Linked DNA regions of Homo sapiens. The protein of the gene in region 7 purifies or fractionates together with the protein of the main gene of each other region. This does not show direct contact. Each region holds a gene or a part of one and is shown on either strand. Other genes may lie near its edges. The genes, in order: ANKHD1-EIF4EBP3, CARNMT1, MOV10, RBM45, FBXW8, SLBP and ZFC3H1.

What was found.
Region 1: the proteins of ZFC3H1 (region 7) and ANKHD1-EIF4EBP3 purify together in Homo sapiens (affinity purification with mass spectrometry, with the first as the bait; 2 studies listed by BioGRID). This does not show direct contact.
Region 2: the proteins of ZFC3H1 (region 7) and CARNMT1 purify together in Homo sapiens (affinity purification with mass spectrometry; 2 studies listed by BioGRID and IntAct, with this or other methods). This does not show direct contact.
Region 3: the proteins of ZFC3H1 (region 7) and MOV10 purify together in Homo sapiens (affinity purification with mass spectrometry; 2 studies listed by BioGRID and IntAct, with this or other methods). This does not show direct contact.
Region 4: the proteins of ZFC3H1 (region 7) and RBM45 purify together in Homo sapiens (affinity purification with mass spectrometry; 2 studies listed by BioGRID and IntAct, with this or other methods). This does not show direct contact.
Region 5: the proteins of ZFC3H1 (region 7) and FBXW8 purify together in Homo sapiens (affinity purification with mass spectrometry; 2 studies listed by BioGRID and IntAct, with this or other methods). This does not show direct contact.
Region 6: the proteins of ZFC3H1 (region 7) and SLBP purify together in Homo sapiens (affinity purification with mass spectrometry; 2 studies listed by BioGRID and IntAct, with this or other methods). This does not show direct contact.

What each region holds. Positions count from the first base shown.
Region 1 is NC_000005.10:140,527,333-140,530,832, forward strand, and holds part of ANKHD1-EIF4EBP3 (ANKHD1-EIF4EBP3 protein), read left to right. Parts: intron 1-19; exon of another isoform or gene 20-96; intron 97-540; coding exon 541-690; intron 691-851; coding exon 852-2,464; intron 2,465-3,500. Other genes in the region: ANKHD1 (ankyrin repeat and KH domain-containing protein 1), read left to right, coding at 541-690, 852-2,464. UniProt on the Homo sapiens protein: May play a role as a scaffolding protein that may be associated with the abnormal phenotype of leukemia cells. Isoform 2 may possess an antiapoptotic effect and protect cells during normal cell survival through its regulation of caspases.
Region 2 is NC_000009.12:74,980,290-74,983,293, forward strand, and holds the end of CARNMT1 (carnosine N-methyltransferase), read right to left. Parts: 3' UTR 501-3,004; downstream 1-500.
Region 3 is NC_000001.11:112,673,236-112,677,458, reverse strand, and holds the start of MOV10 (helicase MOV-10), read right to left. Parts: upstream 2,801-4,223; 5' UTR 2,730-2,800; intron 2,722-2,729; exon of another isoform or gene 2,612-2,721; 5' UTR 2,547-2,611; coding exon 2,410-2,546; intron 1,969-2,409; exon of another isoform or gene 709-1,968; intron 1-708.
Region 4 is NC_000002.12:178,115,437-178,118,936, reverse strand, and holds part of RBM45 (RNA-binding protein 45), read right to left. Parts: intron 2,676-3,500; coding exon 2,553-2,675; intron 883-2,552; coding exon 756-882; intron 1-755. UniProt on the Homo sapiens protein: RNA-binding protein with binding specificity for poly(C). May play an important role in neural development.
Region 5 is NC_000012.12:116,917,450-116,920,949, reverse strand, and holds part of FBXW8 (F-box/WD repeat-containing protein 8), read right to left. Parts: intron 2,420-3,500; coding exon of another isoform or gene 2,219-2,419; intron 1-2,218. UniProt on the Homo sapiens protein: Substrate-recognition component of the Cul7-RING(FBXW8) ubiquitin ligase complex, which mediates the ubiquitination and subsequent proteasomal degradation of target proteins.
Region 6 is NC_000004.12:1,705,820-1,709,319, forward strand, and holds part of SLBP (histone RNA hairpin-binding protein), read right to left. Parts: intron 1-3,500. UniProt on the Homo sapiens protein: RNA-binding protein involved in the histone pre-mRNA processing.
Region 7 is NC_000012.12:71,636,349-71,639,848, forward strand, and holds part of ZFC3H1 (zinc finger C3H1 domain-containing protein), read right to left. Parts: intron 3,136-3,500; exon of another isoform or gene 3,007-3,135; intron 2,168-3,006; coding exon 2,070-2,167; intron 712-2,069; coding exon 502-711; intron 307-501; coding exon 142-306; intron 1-141. UniProt on the Homo sapiens protein: Subunit of the trimeric poly(A) tail exosome targeting (PAXT) complex, a complex that directs a subset of long and polyadenylated poly(A) RNAs for exosomal degradation. The RNA exosome is fundamental for the degradation of RNA in eukaryotic nuclei.

The DNA.
Region 1 (3,500 bases), on a different chromosome or scaffold from region 7:
TCTTGCTTTTTTTCTTTCTCATGTCTCAGTAATTCTAGAACTAAAGTACTAATAATCAACTTTAGATTCAGAATACATGTCAGCTCATCATTGACCTGAGGCTTTATTTTTTATTGCTAAGTATGAGCTGTTGATACTGGTTTAAAATGAATATGCTAGCATAGTTATTCTGTGTGGATTTTAATAATATGGTATTCATTATTTTAACAGGGTCATTGCAGTTTAGTTGATGTGTAATATTTTGGGCAGATTTGAATGCTTATATTGTGAGTGATTTAAATATAATTTTTGTTTTCAATGGCAGTGTAATTTTTAAAATTAGGTTCTCTGAAACTGCAGAGCAATGTAATTTTTAACTTTACTAAATTCAATTCAATATTACAAGAGATCAATTTCTAAAATAAAAACTTTTAATAATTTCCTCTTTAGCATTTAAGAAATGTTATTCTCCAAAATGTCCATGAACATACTTACTAAGACATCTTTCTTAATAAAGAGACATTTAATTTCATAAGCTCATGTGTATTCTTCATTTTATAGGTCAAAGAAATTGTCTGTTCCAGCCTCAGTGGTGTCGAGGATAATGGGAAGAGGAGGATGCAACATCACTGCAATACAGGATGTTACTGGTGCCCATATTGATGTGGATAAACAAAAAGATAAGAATGGCGAGAGAATGATCACAATAAGGTAATTGTGCAAAATGTATACTGCTAGTTCTGAGTAGAAATTATAAGAAGCATACCTTTGTCAGGTATGGTATAATTAAGAACTTTATTTGATGGTTAAGATTACCTTTTTTTTTTTTTTTAATGTTTTTGGTCTTGTTTCTGTTTTTTTTTTTCCCTTAGGGGTGGCACAGAATCAACAAGATATGCAGTTCAACTAATCAATGCACTCATTCAAGATCCTGCTAAGGAACTGGAAGACTTGATTCCTAAAAATCATATCAGAACACCTGCCAGCACCAAATCAATTCATGCTAACTTCTCATCTGGAGTAGGTACCACAGCAGCTTCCAGTAAAAATGCATTTCCTTTGGGTGCTCCAACTCTTGTAACTTCACAGGCAACAACGTTATCTACGTTCCAGCCCGCTAATAAACTTAATAAGAATGTTCCAACAAATGTACGTTCTTCTTTCCCAGTTTCTCTACCCTTAGCTTATCCTCACCCTCATTTTGCCCTGCTGGCTGCTCAAACTATGCAACAGATTCGGCATCCTCGCTTACCCATGGCCCAGTTTGGAGGAACCTTCTCACCTTCTCCTAACACATGGGGACCATTCCCAGTGAGACCTGTGAATCCTGGCAACACAAATAGCTCTCCAAAGCATAATAACACAAGCCGTCTACCTAACCAGAACGGGACTGTTTTACCCTCAGAGTCTGCTGGACTAGCTACTGCCAGTTGTCCTATCACTGTCTCTTCTGTAGTTGCTGCCAGTCAGCAACTGTGTGTCACTAATACCCGGACTCCTTCATCAGTCAGAAAGCAGTTGTTTGCCTGTGTGCCTAAGACAAGTCCTCCAGCAACAGTGATTTCTTCTGTGACAAGCACTTGTAGTTCCCTGCCTTCTGTCTCCTCTGCACCTATCACTAGCGGGCAAGCTCCCACCACATTTCTACCTGCAAGTACTTCTCAAGCACAGCTTTCTTCACAAAAGATGGAGTCTTTCTCTGCTGTGCCACCCACCAAAGAGAAAGTGTCCACACAGGACCAGCCCATGGCAAACCTATGTACCCCATCTTCAACTGCAAACAGTTGCAGTAGCTCTGCCAGCAACACCCCGGGAGCTCCAGAAACTCACCCATCCAGTAGTCCCACTCCTACTTCCAGTAACACACAAGAGGAGGCACAGCCATCCAGTGTGTCTGATTTAAGTCCTATGTCAATGCCTTTTGCATCTAACTCAGAACCTGCTCCATTGACTTTGACATCACCCAGAATGGTTGCTGCTGATAATCAGGACACCAGTAATTTACCTCAGTTAGCTGTACCAGCACCTCGAGTTTCTCATCGAATGCAGCCCAGAGGTTCTTTTTACTCCATGGTACCAAATGCAACTATTCACCAGGATCCCCAGTCTATTTTTGTTACGAATCCAGTTACTTTAACACCACCTCAAGGCCCACCAGCTGCAGTGCAGCTTTCTTCAGCTGTGAACATTATGAATGGTTCTCAGATGCACATAAACCCAGCAAATAAGTCTTTGCCACCTACATTTGGCCCAGCCACACTTTTCAATCACTTCAGCAGTCTTTTTGATAGTAGTCAGGTGCCAGCTAACCAGGGCTGGGGAGATGGTCCACTGTCCTCACGAGTTGCTACAGATGCCTCTTTCACTGTTCAGTCAGCGTTCCTGGGTAACTCAGTGCTTGGACACTTGGAAAACATGCACCCTGATAACTCAAAGGCACCTGGCTTCAGACCACCTTCCCAGCGAGTTTCTACTAGTCCAGTTGGTAAGTTATTAACTATTGCTGCAGTTGAGTTTGGAGCTCCTATGGCCTAATCTCACCTTAAGTGGACAAAAAAAGTAGCAAGAGGTAAATCAGTCACATATAATGAGCTGCTTTAGATTCTCTCTATGATTTTTCTGTCCCTCATAGTAAGGAAGTTATACCATAGTGTAAGTCCATTTTCTTGGAATTGGTGTCTATTCATATTAATAAAAAAAACTCCAGGGATGTTTCAAGGATTCCAAATTTACAGACTTAAAAAAAAAATCATAGTGATTGTTTGCATTTCTTAGATTTAAAAAATTGAAGTTGCAAAGGTGTTTAGGCACAAGTTCATAATTTACATTGTTTAATAGTACTCTTGTTTATTTTAGGTATAGCTATTTGTTTTTTATGTATTTTATTTTTTATTTTTATTATTTTATTTTATTTTTTTGAGACAGGGTCTCACTCTATCACCCAGGCTGGAGTGCAGTGGCCCAGTCTCAGCTCACTGTAACCTCCGCCTCCTAGGCTCAAGCATTTCTCGTTCCTCATCTTCTCAAGTAGCTGGGACTACAGGCATGCGCCACCATGCCCGGCTAATTTTTTGTATTTTTAGTAGAGACGGGGTTTTGCCGTGTTACCCAGGCTGGTCTCGAACTCCTGTGCTCAGGCAATATCCGCCTGCCTTGGCCTTCTAAAATGCCAGGATTACAGGTGTGAGCCACCGTGCCCAGCCTAGATACAGCTATTTGAAGAGACCCAGTCATTTATAGGCTCTTACTTTTGAAAGACCAGTGTAGATTTAGCTGTTGCTTCTTTGAAATTATAAATTAGCTGCCGAGGCATTATGAGAAATATATAGACAGATCTGAGGTCAGTTTTGGCTTGGAGATATTTGGAGAACCAGAATCTATTTTCTATGGTTTAAGAGCCAAATTTTAGTCTAATCTGCACTGTTCTGAAAAACAAATTAAAAATGTGGCCGACCCAGAATATGGCACTATTGCCTCTTAGCATTTCTCTTCCAGTTGGAAAACTGCCCCATATTCCATGC
Region 2 (3,004 bases), on a different chromosome or scaffold from region 7:
AATTTTACTTATGCCCTCACCCATTACCTACTATTATACTTCATTATAATTCCCAACAAACTTTTGGAATCTGTATCTGTACCTACCATTTTTTACTGTTTTCCCCAGGATTCCACGGAAATCTTTTTCAAAGGGTCACTGTAAGATAATTAAAACTAATGTCCTGTTAACAATCCTCATTTTTTCCATCACTATATAGCAGTCAACACAGACTGAAATTACATTTATGGTAATCGTCTATCATGTGCTTTCATACACACAAAAATATATATAAAAGCTCATATGACCTAATAAACCATCTGAAATAGATGGTATTAATCCTCTCTTACAGATGAGGAAATAAGCCAAAGAGTGGCTTGCCTGAGATCACAATCATTCAGGAAAATGAACCCAGAAGATCTAAGTGCTCATCCCACTGATGGCTGGTCCTAGAACTGTCTTCTACTAGTTCCTTTTATAGTTCTTTTTCCATTATTTAACAAAACTGAAAATCAAGATTATTCATTTTCCTCAATGGATTCTAACTTTATTACAGTGAACTTGAATGAAACAAAGTGAAAATAGTTAGTATAAGGCCTGGCATATTATAAGGCGAAGTATTCATGTTACTGACTTCTTAGAAGCATATAAAAATAGGCTAATCCAAGAGTTCAAAAGTATATATGCTCAACTCATTAAAATCCCCACATCTATAGTTACATTAATTTAGATGAAAACCAAGCAACTATCGTTTCATAGCAATTGGCAGACTTTAATATTCAAGAAAAATTAATTTCATCATACACATTAAAAATATAGGAAATTTCATGCAGACATGAAGCTTCCAATTCAGCTTTTGTGGCAACTTTTAGAATGAGAGTTACATATAAATACAGTACATTTTACAGTTACCAAACTTCATAATTTTATACTGTGATTTTTACAGCTTCTCCTTATATTGTACATGTTCCACCTTGCTCACTTGATTAGCATACCCTATATCTGCACTGCTTCAGAATATAGAAATTAAACAAAAAAACATAAGCACAGTGGACTATCTCCTCCCATTTCATAAAGTAAATGAAAATGTTTGTGTATAAAGCTAATTTAAGAAAAACATTTTAAACTTTAAGGCTTACATACTTTAGTAGCTAGGACTAAAATTAAGAAATACAAAGCTAAATAAATCCTCCAGTGATACTTCTATTATTGATTGATACCACATTTTCAAGTTTAGAATATATTAACTGCAAAAGCTGTAAGAAAAGAAGTGATGCAAATTTGTATAGAACATTTAAAAAACAATATTCATGATATGAGGGATAAATTAACAAATGAAGTAACTGATTTCAGAATTAACTAAAACATATGCTATAATTTAGAAATTTAACATTATTAAAGAAAACCTAATAGAAAAAAAATTAATTAATAAAGCCAACCCACCAGTGTCAACCTGTTTTTGCCTGTGACAAAAACAAAGATCATTTGTTTTGATACAAGTTGTAAAAAAGTGAATACTAGTCAGTGAATAAAAAGCATGTCTAAGCCATTGAAAAACAGCATGCATTCCTTTCTGTTCGATTGATTTTTAAAAAATACTTATGTACTTTGCAAGTTTTCTTCTTTTAAAACAATAATTTGAGTTTTTTTTTTCTTCCTTGCCACTAAATTCAAACTCATTCATGTAAGTAATAAGAATTTCCACCAAATGAACATCTGCTAAGTATTGAGGGACACAAAAAAGAGAAATCTTAAAAAAAAAAAAAAAAGGTTACAGTCTTCCCAATTTTGACATGTCAGATTAACTACATGAAACCCTCTATTGCATAGTGAGAGTAAAGGTCACAAAAGTCCCATCACTGTACACGGAAAAGGTCCCCCCAACTAGTAAGATGCCAAATAGGGTAGTGACTCCCCAGCCTAAGTGACAACAAAGGTCTAAAGATTTACAAGTAACTTTTCCTATTAAAACATGACATTTATGCGACCAGCACATTACTGAGATTAAATCCATCTAATTTAAATTGCCACAGAGGTCATTTAAAGCAATCACAATCATCTGTGAAAATATTCAAGAAGAGTTCTTCCTTTTCTCCAAGAAAAGGCTAAAACATTAGTCATCTCTACTTTCCAAGCTACTGGAAACAGAATATCATACATTAAAAAATACAAAGGAAAACTCCCTCCAATAAAGATCTGCTAGAGGTAGAAATTTAAAGCAGCATATACTGTTTAAGCTCCATCTATCAGGGAACAAAATTGGTATTAATCTGAAATTACATGATGGCTGCTGCTTACAATATTGAAGACACAGACCACGGGCAGTAATATATCCCTGAATTTCATAATCAAAATTCCCCACATTAATACTATTATGACAGTTTTTCCTAGTATATAATTTTTTTAATGAAAAAAGTGCTTGCTTTCATAATCCAGATATTCTAAAGAAAAGACATTATTGTAAACATCACACTGTCAAACTCTGTATTCATTTAGAGTCTGAAAATCACATATTTCAAATGGGTAAATTTTATTCTTATTTTCTCTGTTTCCTAGCACTACTTTTAATAAAGGCTTTTTATTTCTCACTTTGAATGTTGAGATCTCGTATATTTCAAAGTGATCCATGATGAGTATGCTTTCATAAAGTGTTCAGTTTATTGTGGCCAAAAGACTTTGATATTTCTGTTACTTGAATATATTTTACCGGCCTGTGATGCTATTAAATTTAACATTTCATAAAAAAGAAATGTTTGATGCTTCTTTAAGTTCATCTGAGCCAGAAAATACAAAATTAAATTAATCTGAATGATAAAATAGACACAGGCCAGGCGCGGTGGTACATGCCTACAGTCCTAGCTACTCAGGAGGCTAAGGCTAAGGCAGGAAGATCGCTTGAGTCCAGGAGTTTGAGGTTACAGTGAGCTATGATCGTGCCACTGCACTCCGGCCTGGGAGACAGAGCGGGATCCTGTCTCTGAAGAAAAAAAAAAAAAAAGACATATTTTACGCATAGTTTTCTTAG
Region 3 (4,223 bases), on a different chromosome or scaffold from region 7:
TACTGGGAAATGAAGGTTGACTTCACAGCATTCCAGCCTGGCTTTAAAGGATGTGTAGGCAAGTTCTTTAATCTGAACATACATTTCCCCAACATGATGAGGGTACAGAGCGGGGATAGTTGATGAAACCCGCTTCTGTCTTCTGGAGTGACACAGGAGTGCAATCTTATCCATTATAACACTCCAAAATAGTCAAGGATAATTACCTTGTACTGTCTGATTTTTCTATTTTTGAGGCAAATATTTCTGAGTTTCTTTCACTGGGTCTCAGGATAGAATATGAACCCACATAGAAGGCCTTTCCACCTCCTCTATGTACTAAAATTTTATCTCTTTCAAGGCTAAAGTCAATGCCATCTTCTCCATCACATCCCCTAATGATTACAGAGGAGTGGTATCTTATCTGCATAAACACAAGTGCATACAGTAAAAACTACTTTGGAAAATGCCTACATTCACCCATAATATACAGTATATCTGGCTTTCTGTATGCAATCCAACACAACCAGTTTTTCCCCAGTACTAAAACATACTATGTACCTTTGGTTTAGAGCTGACAAAGACTCTCCTTGATCAAACTTTTGTTAGACTCCCCTGAGCCCTCTTTTTGACTAGCCCTTGACCTTGCCTCCCCAAACCCTTCAGTCTTAGGCCCACCTAGTTCAGTTTTAGCAAGAATACTGAAGTCATTTTAGTGAGACTCCTCACCCTTGATGCATGACCACGCTTGATATCTGATCAAGTTCCTCATTCCCGCCTTTGATGTACAAGTCCTTGGTCTGCCTTTAACAAGAATCTTGTTAGGTCAGGTGAGCAAAAATCCTCCCACTCTTTATGACTCCTCTTAGTAATTTTCTATATATTGATCCCCTTACTCTGTTCATTGGTCATAAATCCCCCGCTGTTTTTGCTGTATTCGGAATTGAGCTCCAACTCTCTTCTTTCCTATTGCAATACCCTATTACCATAGCCTTGAGTCAAGTCAGCCTTACTGTTTTAACCAATTACTTTTTCCTTAACAGAGCCAAAAGAAGTAGGTGACTTGTTTCCTAGCCATGTTGTACTCTGTGGATATAGGTGAATTCACATACCTTAAGTGTTGATACCATGTGATGCAAATGCTCGCTCTTTCCTCCAGCATTTTTCTCTTACCATCCCTAGTATAATCCTCCATTTTACCATGTACTATCCTATATTGTGTACATGTATATTGCATGCATATCATAGCCTCTGATGCTCCTCTGGGATTGTGTGTTTTTCATCTTAAGAGTCCCCATAGTGTCCAGCATGGTGACATAAAACAGGGCCTCATCATCTTTGCCCCTTCTCAGATGTTGTTCAAGCCTGTTAATATCCCTCTCCAAATGTGATAACCATTAGTGAAAACGATATTCCAGACACGATTTCACCAATATGGAGAGTCTCTACCCTTTTCCCCCACCCCAAATCACACTTCTGTTAGCTCAATCTTAGACTTCAGCTGTTTTAGCAGCCATATCTCACCCATACTGGCCCTCTGGTCTGCTAAAACCCAAGGTCTTTTTCGGGAGGTCTGTTATTAAGCCCAGATTCCCACTACCTTATGTTTATTTGTACAAGTCTTTACGTTTACCCTTGTTAAACTGCTTCTTGGTTTTCCACGCAAGGCAGCAGCCTGTTGATAAACGTGTTTTTGAAGCACAATTCTGTGGTGTGACAGAAGACTCTTTGATTTTCACTTGGGTGGTAGCAGGAAAAGGAGACCAAAGAGCCTTCAGCCACAGGGTGAAAGGGAGCCTCCAGAAGGCTGGCTCTGCCCCTGGGTCTCCATGGAGAAGCCACAGGTGCTAATGGAGGTTTGGTACGCACGTAGTTTGTGCCCTTTTCTTCTTTCCAGAGCTTCCTGAGCTTCTCCCTTCTACCCTGGGCCTCTTCAGTTCTCCCAGATAGCGGACCCCCGAGGCAGCAGCGCCTCAACAAGGTGGCAGAGGTCCCTGTAAAGCCCGCGCTCGGGCTCGCAGCCCCCAACAGGCAGCCTCTAACCCGCGCTCCCGCGATGCCTGGGCCCCCTCTGGAGGCTCCCCTCCCCCACCGCGAGCGCTGTCCCTCAGCCCCCGCGAGCGGCGCATGGACGCGGGACGCAGCTCCCGGCCCCGGGTTCCGGCCTCCGGGGGCGCGGGCAGCGCGGGAGGCTCTCCGCGGCGACTTGGCGCAGGGGCCCAGCTCGGGCAGAACTGGCGGGCTCCGGGCGGCGCTGGTGGGGCGTGGGCGAGGCGCGGGAGGGGAGGTCTGCGCCGCCCCGGGACTGGCCTGAGCCGCTGGGGGAGCTGCGTCCCTCTGCGCCCCGGGGCGGGAAAGGTGGCCCTCGCGCGGGGGTCGTGGCAGCAAGCTGGGCCCGCGATTCGGGGCCGGGAGTGGGCCGGCCCGTACCTGATCTTGAAGTCGCGGTTATAAATGGTCCGCAGCCGCTCGCGATCTGTCTCCATGTCCAGTCCCCGAACGACCAGGAAACTCTCGAAACACTGGCCCGCCTCCCGGAGCTGCCGGCAGCTGAACTTACTGGGCATCGCGGCGGCGGCTGCGGCCCAGGCAGGAGGGTCCGTGGAAATGAAACTGAAAGTCGCCGCTGCAGCTGGAAGTTGGCGGCCCTGAGATGAGGGTGCAGCAGGAGGGAAGCCCCCTAACTCTGACCCCTGATCCTGCGGGCTCCCTTCTCCCCACCAGGCTTCCCTCCTCCGTTCTTTTCTTACCTGAGCTTTCCCTTCGGTTTCTTCGTCCTATCCCCTCCCCCTCTTCGCATTAACTCTTTCCTAAAGCGTCTGACCCCTCCCTCAGGGCCCTCCCCTTACCCCAAGCTCCCTCCCCTGGCTTCTAGCCAGTATCAGAACGTGGCTACCGCTTGGGGCCCTCTGAACAGCCCGGGAGGACCTCCGAGCCTCAGCCAGGGCTACCCTCACGCCCACCCTCCAGAGCCTCGGGACTCAGTGAAAAGCAGGAGAGCAAAGGGCAGGGCTGGGATCTAGGTCGGCTGCGGCCGGAATGGGGAAGCTCATCCAGCGCCTCCCCCAGCCTTCCAGGGACGTAAACTCGGGGCGACACGCCCCCTCCCCCATTTTCCCTTCTCGGGCTTTCAGACGCACGTAGTTGGCATAAGGGTCAAAGAAGTTTGGGGAAAAGAACCCAGTGTCTCTGAGATAAAGGTGTGTACGTGTGGGAGGGAGGGACAAGGGGCTCTGCCAGGATACACAGTAATTGCTTTTCTCTGCCACATCGGCTTATGTGGAAAGGCTGGTGACCGACCCTTACCCCTGAGCCACATATTTGGGCGCTTCGTTGCATTCCAGTCTGTATTGCTCTTTAATTTTTACTGGTATATAAGGTGGACCCTTATATTCATCAAAATACTAGCATCTTGAGCGTAAGGGACTGTTGTGTTAGGCAATAATAAGTGGTTAATAGTGACAGCATCAGTACCAAGAAGAGAACTAAAAGGGCAGTGTGCTTCAGAAGACTGTATAGACAAATTTAAGGGGGTGGGGCTACAATAACAAACCTTTGTATCTATTTTTTTCCCGCAGAATGAAATGACACACACACTAGAATGGGACAAGCTAAGTTACACTACAAAGTTTTAAATCAAATACATCACTTTCAAATAAATCAAAGCTAGTGTTGTTCTCCATAGTAGCTACCAGCAGGAGGCCACACACTCAATCTACGGAATTGAAGAAAGTCCAGAACCCAGGTCATACTCCAGCTGGGCTACCCGGTACCTTCTCTCAGGCCAACAACCAAATGAAGCCAGGAATAACAGGCTTTAGCAACAGGAAATGCAATGTCAGTGGGAACCAAAGCTACGGGGATGGGTAAAATAGGGCAGAGGAAAACATCTTACAAACTTATTATGCAAAGTAGAAGAAAAAACTAGAAAAGCAGCCAAAGATTTTACCTTTTTTCTCCCTCAATGTCCTGATGAGGTTCCAGAAGAATAGAGAGGGTGAACTCTTAAAAATTGCCTTGTTACTTACCATCTCAAAAACGTACCATCAACCGTACTCAAACTGAATGTCTGGCTCCATTCTGACCAGCAAATCTAAATCCCTATTATTCTTGGATACAATCTCCCTTCTTCTCTGGTCAGGTTTATGTCTTGGATGTTCTCAAAACGTACACAAAAGTCTGCAGTATAGTAAAACCTTGGGTAAAAAGTGTGATGCTATGTGGCTTTGTTTACAATGGAACTT
Region 4 (3,500 bases), on a different chromosome or scaffold from region 7:
ATTACTGCTAGCTAAATGAGAAATTTAGAAGGATCTAAGAGAAAATCTGGGTATGTACCTTAGGGGTATCTAAGAATTCTACTGATTAACAGTAATTCTTTCCAGTAAGTATATATTTTTATAATGTCCTAAAATCCAGTAATTTAATTACTCTACATATCATTTCTAAAGGTCAATATACCTAACTAGAAGTATACCAACAAAGAATATTCTCTTTGACATCTTTAAAATTCTTATTCTTTATATATACAGCAACATCAGAAGATCACATTCATGTCACTCTAGCTTGAAATTAACCCTATCTATATCAGTTACCTATGTTAGCACATCTTATAAATCTTACCCTTAACCTATAGGTTTATTAGTTATACTTTATAGTCTTTGGGATGTAGATCAAATATAAACAAATATAAAGAATATTTTAAAAACCTTGAAAAGGTAAGTCAAGTTTTTAATACTTAAAATTCTAAAATACACTTAAAAAACCCTAAAAACCTATAAAAATAATACCCAAAGTATGCATTTCACTTACTAAGTTAATGTAGTTGCTCTTATTTCTTCAAGATAGTGCCTCAATGAATGTTTAATCATAACCCCAAAATATTTTTCTTCCTTGGACTGTAAATATTTAAATACCCACTGCTAAAATTACATTAGCAGATACAGTTATTAGCAAAAACTAATATTAAATTCAGCTATTTAGAATAATCAGAATTTTTTACAAAAGTTTTTAACAATGTTAAACACATCCTTACTTCGATCACAGTTTTCTATTGCTTGGGCAGCTTGTGATGGTTTTAAGTATCGTACGTAGCCCAAACCTTTACTTTCTCCAGTCACTTTATTCTTAATAATGCTGCAATACTCGATATCTCCATACACCTAAGAGAGTTAAAAGACATGATTTTAGGGGACTTAAAATTAATTGAACAGAGTATTTCAGAACTAAAAATTTGTTTATATGTGACCCTTGCATGCAAACAAAGAAATAGGCAGTATAAAATATGCAGATATTGCATATTTGTATTTGCAAATATGCTTATTTCATAGATAAGGAAGCTGGGCTTTAGAGAAATCAAAGAGGGACAAAGTCACAGAAGAGTAAGAATTTGTACATGGTCTGGATAGCTCCAAAGTCTTGCTCAACAGTGGTTAAGAGCCAGAGCTCTGGAATTAAACTTTCTAGATTGAAATCCTGAATCAACCACTCATTAATTAGGCAGTTTACTTATTCTCTCTGTGCCTACCTCTTTATTAAAGAGGCTAGCAGTAGTATCTACCTCACAGGGTTGTTTAAGGGTTAACTGAAGTAAAACATGTGAAGTGCTTACATGGGGCTTGGAACATACTCAAAGAACATTAGCTATTATTACTTGTCTGTCTTCTAACAGGAACATAAATGATTGTGTATTCTTTTGAAGGAGTGCTTTTCAAAGGGTATTTCTAAAATATGCTGGTTCACTCAGAAAGTTACTATTCTGAGAAACATGCAGTAGTGTTTACTTTCAATGTTCAAAGAAATATGGAATATAATTGGTATTTATTATTTATTTTATAAATTCTTATGTAATCAATTAGCAACTTAATTACTATACATTAAAGTGTTATATTTGTTCATTCAGGAAAAGAAAAATTTATAAATATTTAAGGTAAAAAACATTTTCCTTACTACTGGAGGATGTATAAAATATACGTTTTTGGTATTTGTTATTTTTGAAGTATTTCATTGAATTCTCAATTGGGGTAGGAGAGAAAGTTTGAAAATTACTTTTTACTGCTTGTTTTCTTTCTTGCTTGTTGCCACCCAATTCATGGGAGGATTAGTAGAAAAAAGATAAAAAACTACAATTCAAAACAATTAAAAAATTGCTTTTTAATAATTTGTGTGAAAGCTCATCACTGCATAAGTTAATGGCTAAAAAGACATAAAATTATCCTCAAATTTCACTTATATAGGTCAGAGCTATATTTACGTTTTCTTCTTTAAATATAATTCCTTCAAAGGCCCAATTTTAGGACAAAAACTCTTCAAAGAATAAGCCTTTCTGTGAATGAGTACCATGTCAACACACCATAGGCCCGTTCTCAATACTAGATAATACAGTTCACACACTCAGGTCTGCCTGATTCGCCTCTACATGCCAGGCAATAGAGGGGAGTGATAAAAGCGTGCTTTGAAATTTTAAAGACCAAGAGCAGGCTCCAGACTCCGACAGCCTGGGTTTAAATCATAGCTCTACCACCTACTAGTTGTGTGACTTTACTTAAAAGTTTCTGAGCTTTATGCTTCATTTCTGCGAATCTCTACTTTCACAATAAAGTAGGGAGAGACTACCATTACTATTTTCCAGCTTTTATATATTCTTTAATTTTAAAAACTAATTTATGCTAGGTTTAATATTTAAAGAGTAGATTGAAATTGATGAAAGCAGTTATGTAATTCCCCAAGACTACTCTATTGACCTTATTCCAACAACATTTCAGATTTAGTACCCATACAACCTATGCAGGACTATGAGTTATCACATATGCTAGCTGATTAGAATAAATACCTTAAATTTTTCCCGCAGATCTTCTTCTGTGTAGGACTTTGGTATCATAACAAAGATTCTTGTAAGTTCTTCATCTTCAACATCTCGGTGACTTCCAGATGATCGGGACTGAGCAATGAAAACCTAAGAAACAAACAAAACTCCCAAAATAAAATAATGTCAACTATTTTCCCATTTCTTAAATTTTTTCAAAAGCAATTATTCTTGCAATGACTTTTTTTTAATCTTTGAGACAGGGTCTCAAAGAAAAAAAAAAGCAGGCTGCAGTGCAGTGGTGTGATCATGGCTCACGGCAGTCTCAACATTCTAGGCTCAAGTGATCCTCCCACCTCAGCCTCCCAAGTAGCTGGGACCACAGGCACACACCACCACACCCAGCTAATTTTTTAATATTTGTAGAGACAAGGTCTTGCTATGTTGTCCAGGATGGTCATGAATTCCTGGGCTCAAGTGATCCTCCCACTTTGACCTTCCAAAGTGCTGGGATTACAGGTGTGAGCCACTGTGCTGGGCCTGCAATGACTTTTTTTTATGAGATAATACCAATCTCTGCATTGTGTTTTTCCCAAATGTATTTCTACTTTTGCATTTATTTTTAGCCAGAGTAATTTGAAGAAACGTAATACAATTAATTAAAACACCATAAACAAGGGCACTTGCATTGTTTGTTTCTTTTTCCTTTAAAGGGGTCTCTATATCTTGGTCTCTGATCCACTGCTGGTAAAGGGGGCTCTGTATCATTAAAGCATGAGAAAACTGGAACTTATGAAATTCCACAGTAGGAAGCAGCAACCAAGAAAACCACAGTGTTAGAGACATATCCCTTTATAGTCTACTTCTAGTTATTCCTTCAATAAATCTATACTATATGTCAAGCACCATATGAGTACAACTATTGAGTAACATGGAAATGGCCCACTAGAGTCTTGTGGCTGATATCAGTAATAA
Region 5 (3,500 bases), about 45 Mb from region 7:
AGGAGAGAAGACAGGAAGAGGAGAAGCTTCAGGTCCCAGAGGGGTACCACAGTGGGTGTGGTTTTTGAAACCACAGTGGGTTTGTGAAAAGAGTAAAGATGTTCACATTAAGGGTCCCAAACACTGCAGGCACATTCCCACCATCAGGATTGGCTATAGAATTTGGGGGGCCTGTTGGTCACAAATGATTAAGATCATTACAAATGATCAAGGCAACAGAGCATTAAACTAAGTGCGGGTCCTGGTCACCACAGAACCTTTGCACTTGCCCGTCTTGGCCTAGAATCCCCTCCCCCAGATCTCTGTATGTTCACTCCTCACCTCCTTTAGGTTCTCCATGAAATGTGACCTTCCCAGAAAGACCCTGTTGGACAGCACTATTTAAAATTACAGCCCCTCCCCTGGCAGATACACTCTATCCTGTCTGCTTATTTCTTCTCCAGAACATTTATTTATTACCTGACAATTATTTGTCCATTGTCTAACTCCCTCTTCCCCAGAATGTAAGTTACACAAGGGCACAGGCTTTTTTCTGCCTTGTTCAATGCTATATTCTCAGTGCCTGGAACAGTGGCTGGTACCAAGAAGACACTTAATAAATATTTGTGGGATATGAATGAAACCCAAGCTGCTTCAAGCAGCAGACCGTTCCAACAAAGACCGCATGTAAGTCACAAGTTGTTCTAGTATACACAGGCATCATTTCAAAAGGTTCGTAAGTGGAGGCCTGCTAATTCACGAATAACATGAAAAAATGAACAGCACTGAGGATAAGAACTTTTTAGTTGGGGGAAAGGGAGAAATTTGGGCTGGAGAAATCACGGAAGAATTAACACAGGAGACAGAACTCAAGCTGAGCTTTAAAAGGCAGGCAAAGAACAGGAAAGAGGAAAGGAAGTTATTCCAGTTAAGTCAATTCATGAGTACACATTTGGTTTGGTTTGCTGTCTCACTGCATATTAGCCAGAAGAAAAGTGTTCACATTAGGGAGCTTACTTATTTGTGTTTAACTTAAAAACAGAAGAAGGTTAAGCCATTAAATCTATCTTGTTGGCAACACAGATGCAGGATCTGACAGGTTAAATATTGACATGGTGAGTGATAAATATTGGCCAGCAGTATTAAAACTTTCAGCAGACCTAAAACTCCATATCTTAACCTGGAAGGATGCTTTGAATGTTCAAGGGTTCTAACAATCATAGAGCCTTTATAAAGTCGCAGTCAGAAGCAGCAATTTTGCCCACATTATTTCAACTCAACAAACATAGATAGGGCCCCTACTGTACTAGTAAGGCAGGTGGAGTTAGAACAGTAAGGCAACAGATCCTGCCCTCCAGGGATTCACAAGAGGCGGAAGCTAAGGGCTTATCGGTGATAAGCTTCAGTAAAGAGGAAGTAAAATAGCATAGCAAACTCTGAGTACTAACGATAATGGCACCAGCTTACATTTATTGGGCCCTTACTGTACTCCAGGCTCAGTGCTAAGTTCCATGCCTATTTCATTGCCTCTTCACGAGATAGGTACTAACATCATCATCATTTGACAGCTAAGGCAGGGGAAATTAACTTGCCCAAGGCAAACTGGTAACAGCAGAGCCAGAATCTGAACTCAGGTCTGCTTGACTGCAGAGCCCAGCCCCATAGCCAAGACTGTCCTGACTCCATTAATGTCATTCTTTTAGTTAAAAGAAACAAGACTTTAGGCTCTCTGAGGACAAGGAGCCATTCTGTTTACTGCTGATTCCCCAGCACTGAGCTGATCAATGAATATATGTTGGATGAACAGAAAACACAGTCGTCCCCCCTTATCCGCGGTTTTGCTTTCCATAGCATCAGTTACTTACAGTACAGTATTATGAGAGCCCACATTCATATAACATTATAGTATACTGTTGTAATTGTTCTATTTTGTTGTTGCTGTTAATCTCTTACTGTGCCTTGTTTATAAACTTTATCATTGCTCTGTGTATATAGGAAAAAAAAACATGGCATATACAGGGTTCAGTACTATCTGCATTTTCAAGCACCCACCGGGGGTCTTGAAATGTATCTCCAGTGGATAAGGTGGGACTACTGTATTCTCAGTTAGTGCTGCGTCACACACCCACCTAAAATGGATATCAGTTATTGCTCTTTTTTCCTGCCCAACATCCACTTCCTCTATTTAGGAAACCATCCCACTCCCACTCTTAGTCAACACAATTTAGGCAGAGCTGACCTCACCTTCATCTTCAGGAATGGGCAATGGATTCGAGTCTGAACAATTTGAATCAGTGATTGGCTGAAAGGTGGACACATGACCCAGTTTGCAGCAATGGGAATTTAGGTTCATGACTTGCAGCTCTCTTTCCCTTGAGTTGCTAAGCAGATAGAAGACTAGAGTTGCTGGTAGCCATTTTTCCCCAAGAGGAAAGCCTGTCTGTGAATAAAGTCAACAAAAGGAAAGCAGGATTAAGAGAAGGCAAATCCTACTTACCTTAGGTAAGCACCCAGAACAAACATTACCACCTGGAATTTTCAGTTACAGGAATCAATAGATTCCAGTTTGGGTTTTTAAGCCAGTTTGGGTTGGGTGCTTGTTGCCTGCAGCCCAGAGTCCTGATACACCACCTAAATAAAAATGGAGCCCAAGCAAGTTGGTATCACAGCCACTCCACTGAAGAAAGCAGCACACTTGCAATTATACTCAGGTATATCCACTATCTCCAAGAAGCCTGGGTTTATGAACAGAGGAGAAGAGAAGACAACAGAGAAAGTGCCTACTGCCTCTGAAATTCTGACCAGGGATGTGTTCTTTCACTAGTTTACTTATACTAAGAACTCTATCAGGTGCCAACTGAGGTATTCCCAACTCATCACCTAAAAAGAGATGGCTGCTAAGTGCTATTACTAAAAGCTTCATAAAACATGAGGCTTGGGAGGAGTCCTGCGTTGTTTTTTTTTTGTTTTTTTTTTTTTGAGGTGGAGTCTTGCTCTGTCACCCAGGCTGGAGTGCAGTGGCGCAATCTCGGCTCACTGCAACCTCTGCTTCCCGGGTTCAAGCAATTCTTCTGCCTCAGCCTCCCCAGTAGCTGGGACTACAGGCACGTGCCACCACACCCGGCTAATTATTGTATTTTTTAGTAGAGACAGGGTTTCACCGTCTTAGCCAGGATGGTCTTGATCTCCTGACCTCGTGATCCATCCACCTCGGCCTCCCAAAGTGCTGGGATTACAGGCATAAGCCACCATGCCCAGTGAGTCCTGCGTTTTCATGTCAGCTTTGCTTGCCCATCAGAGGTTCTGGCCTATACCAGCCAGATGACACTCCAAGGCAGCACTGCTCACCTACCCATCCAAAGGCAACTTCACTTTTGATTGCTAACTTATTAGTTGTTCTCTCTCTAGTGATGGATACTGAAGACTCTGAAGTGGAGGAGACTGCACCAGAAATACAACAGGGTGCACTAATGAAAGTGCCAAAGGTTGGAGAAGAAACGGGGGCAGGGAGGAAGTGTAAG
Region 6 (3,500 bases), on a different chromosome or scaffold from region 7:
ATCTCCAAAATAAATAAATACCCAAGCATGGTGGGGCGTGCCTGTAGTCCCAGCTACACAGGAGGCCCAGGCAGGAGGATCACTCTAGCCCAGGAGGTCAAGGCTGTGTGAGCCATGATCCTGGCACTGCACTCCAGTCTGGGCAACAGGGCAAGACCATATCTCAAAAAAATATATATGGTGGCAGAGGACAGTGGCTCATACTTGTAATCCCAGCACTTTGGGGACGCCGAGGCGGGTGGATGACCCAAGGTAAGGAGTTTGAGACCAGCCTGGCTAACATGGCGAAACCCCATCTCTAATAAAAATACAAAAATTAGCCAGGTGCAGTGGTGCGCACCAGTAGGCCCCAGCTACTAGGGAGGCTGAGGCAGGAGAACTGCTTGAACCCCAGAGACGGAGGTTGCAGTGAGCCGAAATTGCACCACTGCTCCTCCAGCCTCAGCAAGAGACTCCGTCTCAGAAAATAAATAAAATACAGAATAGCTAGCATATCCATTTACCTTTCGGGCGCATGTAATTAATAATTCAGAATGTTATGTACACTATGATTACAATGTGTATGGAGGAGTATATGTCAGAGTCCTTGCTGTGTCAGGACTCCGTCTACTGGCAAAGTACCCCCTGTGCTTGAGTTAAACCACATCCAGGAGCTCAGTTCCATCTCAAGTTCAAGATAGTCTTCAGTCAATATTGGGAAATTTATGGCCAGGCAGTGGCTCACTCCTGTAATCCTAGCACCTCGGGAGGCTGAGGCTGGCAGACTGCCTGGGCTCAGGAGTTCCAGACCAGCCAGGGCAACATGGTGAAACCCAGCGTCTACCAAAATACAAAAACTTGGCTAGGCGTGGCAGCGCGTGTCTGTAATCCCAGCTACTAGGGAGGCTGAGGCAGGAGAATCCCTTGGACCCAGGAGGTGGAAGTTGCAGTGATCCACCAGGCGGAGTTGCAGTGAGCCGAGATCGTGCACTGCACTCCAGCCTGGGGGAGAGAGACCCCGTCTCAAAAAATAAATGAATAAATAAATAATAGTCCGGGCGTGGTGGCTCACACCTGTAATCCCAGCACTTTGGGAGGCCGAGGTAGGTAGATCACCTGAGGTCAAGAGTTCAAGACCAGGCCGGGCGCAGTGGCTCACGCCTGTAATCCCAGCACTTTGGGAGGCCGAGGCGGGTGGATCATGAGGTCAGGAGATCGAGACCATCCTGGCTAACAAGGTGAAACCCCGTCTCTACTAAAAATACAAAAAATTAGCCGGGCGCGGTGGCGGGCGCCTGTAGTCCCAGCTACTGGGGAGGCTGAGGCAGGAGAATGGCGTGAACCCGGGAAGCGGAGCTTGCAGTGAGCCGAGATTGCGCCACTGCAGTCCGCAGTCCGGCCTGGGCGACAGAGCGAGACTCCGTCTCAAAAAAAAAAAAAAAAAAAAAAAAAAAAAAAAAAAAAAAAAAAAAAAAAAAAAAAAAAAAAAAAAAAAAAAAGAGTTCAAGACCAGCCTGGCTAACATGGTGAAACGCTGTCTCTACTAAAAATACAAAAATCAGCTGGGTGTGGTGGTGGGTGCCTATAATCCCAGCTACTCGGGAGGCTAAGGCAGGAGAATCACTTGAACCTGGGAGGTGGAGGTTGCACTCCAGCCTGGGCAACAGAACGAGATTCCATCTAAAAAAAATAATAATTAAAATTTAAAAAATAATAATCAGGAAATCCAAAAGCTTAAGGCTTCGAGCCCCAAATTCTGGCAGTTCAAATTGATGTATCTTATTTATACATCAGACATAAACTCACATTTTTATTTTTCTACCCCATTTTTCTGTTGATCACTACTGACATTAAAACTAGATACTGGGCCGGGTGCACAGGCTCATGCCTGTGACCCCAGCACTTTAGAAGGCTGAGGCGGGCGGATCACAAGATCGGGAGTTTGAGACCAGCCTGGCCAACATGATGAAACCCTGCCTCTACTAAAAATACAAAAATTAGGATAGGCATAGTGGCTCACACCTGTAATCCCAGCACTTTGGGAGGCTAAAGCAGGCTGATCACTAAGTCAGGAGTTCGAGACTAGCCTGACAAACATGGTGAAATCTAGTCTCTACTAAAAATACAAAAATTAGCCAGGCGTGGTGGTGCGCACCTGTAATCTCAGCTACTCAGGAGGCTGAGGCAGGAGAATTGCTTGAACCCGGGAGGCAGAGGTTGCAGTGAGCTGAGATCGCGCCACTGCACTCCAGCCTGGGCGACAGAGCAAGACTCTATCTCAAAAACGAAAAAAAAAAAAAAAAAATCAGGCGGGCGTGGTGGCGCATGCCTGTAGTCCCAGCTACTTGGAGGCTGAAGCAGGAGAACTGCTTGAACTTGGAAGGCAGAGGTTACAGTGAGGTGAGATCACACCACTGAACTCCAGCCTGGTTGACAGTTATGCCCCGTCACAAAAAAATACACTAGATACTAACTTTAATTACAACAAATAAGCAACCTATTTTAGCTGTAAACCAAATGCTGTGCTTTGAAAATGCAATTGCAGTAACAAATGAATAATCCTCTTATGTAATTATCATTTCTTCCCTTACAGTCACACAACTCAGATAAACTTAAATTGGATTTCTAAAAGTAAATTTCCAGATTCTAAAAATGGTAGAAAGTTATGAAATCAAATTAGGTAATTAACTGAAAATTAAATTGACTCAATAGAGGTTTGTCCAGGATTGGATACAAGCATCCTCACTAGTGTATCAAGAGGTTCAAGTCTGGGTCTGCCAACATAACAAATTCCTGAACTACAAGAATAATTTAAAGCCTGTGTATGTGAATGACCATATACTACATGCCATATTTTGGTATCTTTAAGTCCATTTCTTAGATTAAGTAGGTTATATTCATAATCTACCCTATCTTGGGACAACAAAGCCTAATTTTACACACTAAGCTAACAACCTTCCAAAGAGTACTTCTAGATCTTATCCATCAACGAGCTGGCTCTATTTGTCAGGTGCCTCCAGGCATTATCCACAATGTGCAAATACCAAGTGCAAAGGCCCTAGGACAGAAGCATTCCTATAGTTTGAGGAATGAGGACACCAAAAACTTCCATAACTTCTAAAGCACTGTAAGGATTTAATATTTTTATCTTCAGCTAAATGAGACCACTGGAGAGTTCAGAGCTTGATCTCAATAAGGTTTGTTTACCTTCCCTTCATATCTGGACCTAGGGCCTCTTCTGTACCCACCCGTAGACCCAAGTCTTTTGTCTTTTTTTTTTTTTTGAGACAGTTTCACTCTTATTGCCCAGGCTGGAAGGCAATGGCGTGATCTCGGCTCACCGCAACCTCCACCTCCTGGGTTCAAGGGATTCTCCTGCCTCAACCTCCCGAGTAGCTGGGATTACAGGCATGCGCCACCATGCCCGACTAATTTTGTATTTTTAGTAGAGATGGGGTGTTGGGAAAAAGGCTTATCGAGTGCCTGTATAAGCTGGCCATAAAAATATGGCACAGTAAGTT
Region 7 (3,500 bases):
ATAAATTTTAAAAATTTGTATTTATATGTGAATATATGTGTGTATATAAATAAACCAAGGGGTAGAAAACAGGACAGCTAAACTTCATAGAAATTTATCATAACTGTTTGAATAAAAGTAGCATTAAATTTTTGTTTTTACCGAGATCACAGTTCGTGGAAGACGGGGTCCTCTGTGAAACTTTGGATTCTGTATCCTAGGCTGAGACACTGTGTTAATACTGACTATTGATAGATTGCTTCTTGGCACAGGATGTGAATTGTTCAGAACTGGAGGTGAAGGTGGGTCACTATTACTGGATGTTTCCTACATAAGGAAGAGAAAGACATTAAACATTCCTAAATAAAAATAAATTTCTGCCACCTTTAAAAATCTTGAGCATGTTAGAATTATCCCCACTTTGCTGAAAAGCCCAATGATGCCCAAGTAACCAGAAAAAAGTAGGACTACCGTAAAGCTAAGCTCAAGAGCACCACCTAGAGGTTTAGGTACCTAAATTACCTCTGGCTTAAAAGCTCTTTTATTTGCTAGAGATTTAAGTAGTTCTTCTCGAAGCAGCATTTCTTCCTCCTCTTCCTCATCTGCAAAAGGTGGTTTTGGAGGCTGTTCTGGATCTTCAGGTGGGAGAGGTGGTAATGGTGGTAGAGGAGGTAGAGGTTCAAGAGAAACACACAAGCCTTCCACATAAGGCTGGCTCAAAGGTGGCAGAGACTATTTTTTAAAAAAAGAAAGAATTACAACGCAAATTTTATCAACTCAAATGCTTCTCTCTGCAGCAATATTAAACTAGAAAAAAATAAACTTTACATTATTATTTTAGCTGTAAATATAGTAAGCTAAGTATATGTTAACCTCAAAACAAACCAGAAATCAATAGCCAACCACGAAAAAGTGTTATTTTTACAATTTTAAAAAAAATCAACAATATTTGAAACATTTATTAACTTCAAGGAAAATTATAGAAACTTCTCTGTTCCAATTCTTATATCCATTTAGCATTCTAGAAGATATAGATATCAAACTATACAGGGTCCTTCCTTCTAGATGACTACCTGAAAGCAAGTAGAGGTACTGAAACCCAAGACATAATATTTCAGTAAAAAATAAAAATTAGAAACCAAGGGATTCTGTGAATAATAGTCCAGAGTACTTTAATCATTAATTAAGTATCAAGAAGAATCACCACTACTCTCTTAAAATGGCTTCTTAAAGAATATCTATAAAGGAAACTAATTTTACACAAATCCCTAAATTTGGATATGTATTTGCATCAAAGATCTTCCACTATTTCCCTTGGCATTTAGTTCATTTATTCATTCCCAAAAAGAAAACATTACAACGAAGAAAGTGCTGTTTTCTCTCTCACTATCGGCTCTAATATTCCCCTCACCATATATGTTCTAGAAAGACACTAGACGTCTTTCCTGAAACGGAAAAGTTCCCTCTTACACCTACTGAGAGATACTCAATTTGATCTCTAGGTCCTCTCAATCTAAAAATAATGTCAAAACTTTTAATGTGTGATTCCTCTACTTCCTTTTTTTCCTTTTCCTTTTATTGTTTTTATTTTTTTGTTTTATTTTTAGTGGGAGGACTGGAGATGGGGGGGAAAAGAAATTAACTTCATAGAAAATGCTTTTCTTTTGCTGGATTTTCAAGTTAAAAATAACCATTTTTATGAAAAGAGGAGAAAGGAGAGTATTAATTTTTAGAAGCATCCTAATGCATGTAAATTCCAATTCCCTAAAAAAGAGACAGTCCAAAACAGTAGATAACTTCTGTTTTTGAATAAATTTTCTGAGTAGCTACTATCTGAGAGTAAAGTGAAGAAGGAAACATGATAGGTACCGAAAAGTCAACATGAAATTAAAAATTAGCTATGAAAAAAATCTACCAAATGGATAGCTTGCTGGTATAATCAACTGTTTATTCTACGTATTTCATTGCTATTAATTCTTGGTAAGCAATTCTGATTTTTTAAGCCCTCTTCAAACCTAACCATTCGTTTTTAAAAACAAATTAGAAAAGACAAGACAAAATAATTTTCTTAGAAATCAATTCTGACTTACAGAAACCTGAGGTGGTGGAGGCAAAGAAAGAGATGGTGCTGGAGAAAAATACCCCAATGAACATTCAGAGAAAAATGGCGGTTGCACTGGTGAAGGAGCTGTAAAAAAATTTTTTGTTAAGAGTTTAATAACAGAAATACTTCATCAGGAATATATTAAGTTTATGTTATGTTTGAAGAAATACATCTAGGTGGAGTGCAAATTAGATTTTATCAACCTCTGATAAAATCTTTAAACCCCTCATGAGTCCACCTCCAGCCATTTAAAATTGTCATATCATCATAAAGTCAGCCATTCACTTTAAACTAATAATTAGTCCCTCAAAACTCTCACTTTGTTCCACTTTTAACCTAATGATGAGAACAGGGAATAAAGCAGGAAAAGACAGAAACATACTTTAAAAAAACAAACAAAAAAAAACACAAGCATATTTTTTAAGAAATAATGAAACAAAAAATTCCCTTAAATTCTGCCAAAGTGCCCTAGCCAAAGGAAAACAATGATGTGGTGACTTCATTATTCCCTTCTTGTGGAGCAAAAGAAAGTTGAGGACATGGACCATATAAGCTGTGTTGAAAGTAAATAAAACTAGGAATGAGAAGAATTACTTAGTGTATTTAGTCAATAAGGTGCACATTTTTTCACATTTTAATTTTGAAATAATTACAATTGATGCATCTCAGCATTTTTCTTCCTTGGTAGCAGATAAAAATAATTGTGTATTTTATCTTCAATGACTTGTTAGGCTCACTGAAATACAGCAGTTTCAAAGACTACTCTTACTACCCTACCCACTAACTATATAATCAGAGAAAATCTAACATTTCTTCTTTATCCCAGTTGTCTCACAAGTCAATACATTATTATCCACATGCCTTATATGGGGTTGACTTGAGTCCCAAATGAGATAATCTGAATATACACTAATCTTTGGAACATTTTACATAGCGCTGCAGATGTGGCTGCTGTGTCACATTTGTGTTATTAGGTGGCAGAGAGAAGAGAGGCTATGTCTATGCTCAGTGTTCTGCCCCATGAACATTTGAATGTTTAATAGTCAGACACTTGATGGTGCTATTGTTTTATGGACTTGGCATGTTTTCCCTTCCTAGTATCTGGGAGAGAGGGTGGACCTAGTGAGTGCAGTGATCTCCGAGGAAAGCCCTCCAGGCTGCACTATCCTCATCCAGATTTAACCAGCCCTGACTCACTGCCAGGTGCCAGGAGAGGCTTCTGAGGACTTTCTGACCTTTGTGTTGGGTCAGCCACTAGGGGGTCTGAAAGGACAGTGGGAAGGTAGAGGGTGCCCTCAGCAAGAGTAGCCTTCATTCATGAATTTTAGAAACTAGTGGTAGGAAAGATGAAGTCCATTATGTGCTGGTTCATGCTACCCACCATGTCAGGATCATCCAGGAGGACAAAGAACTAGGC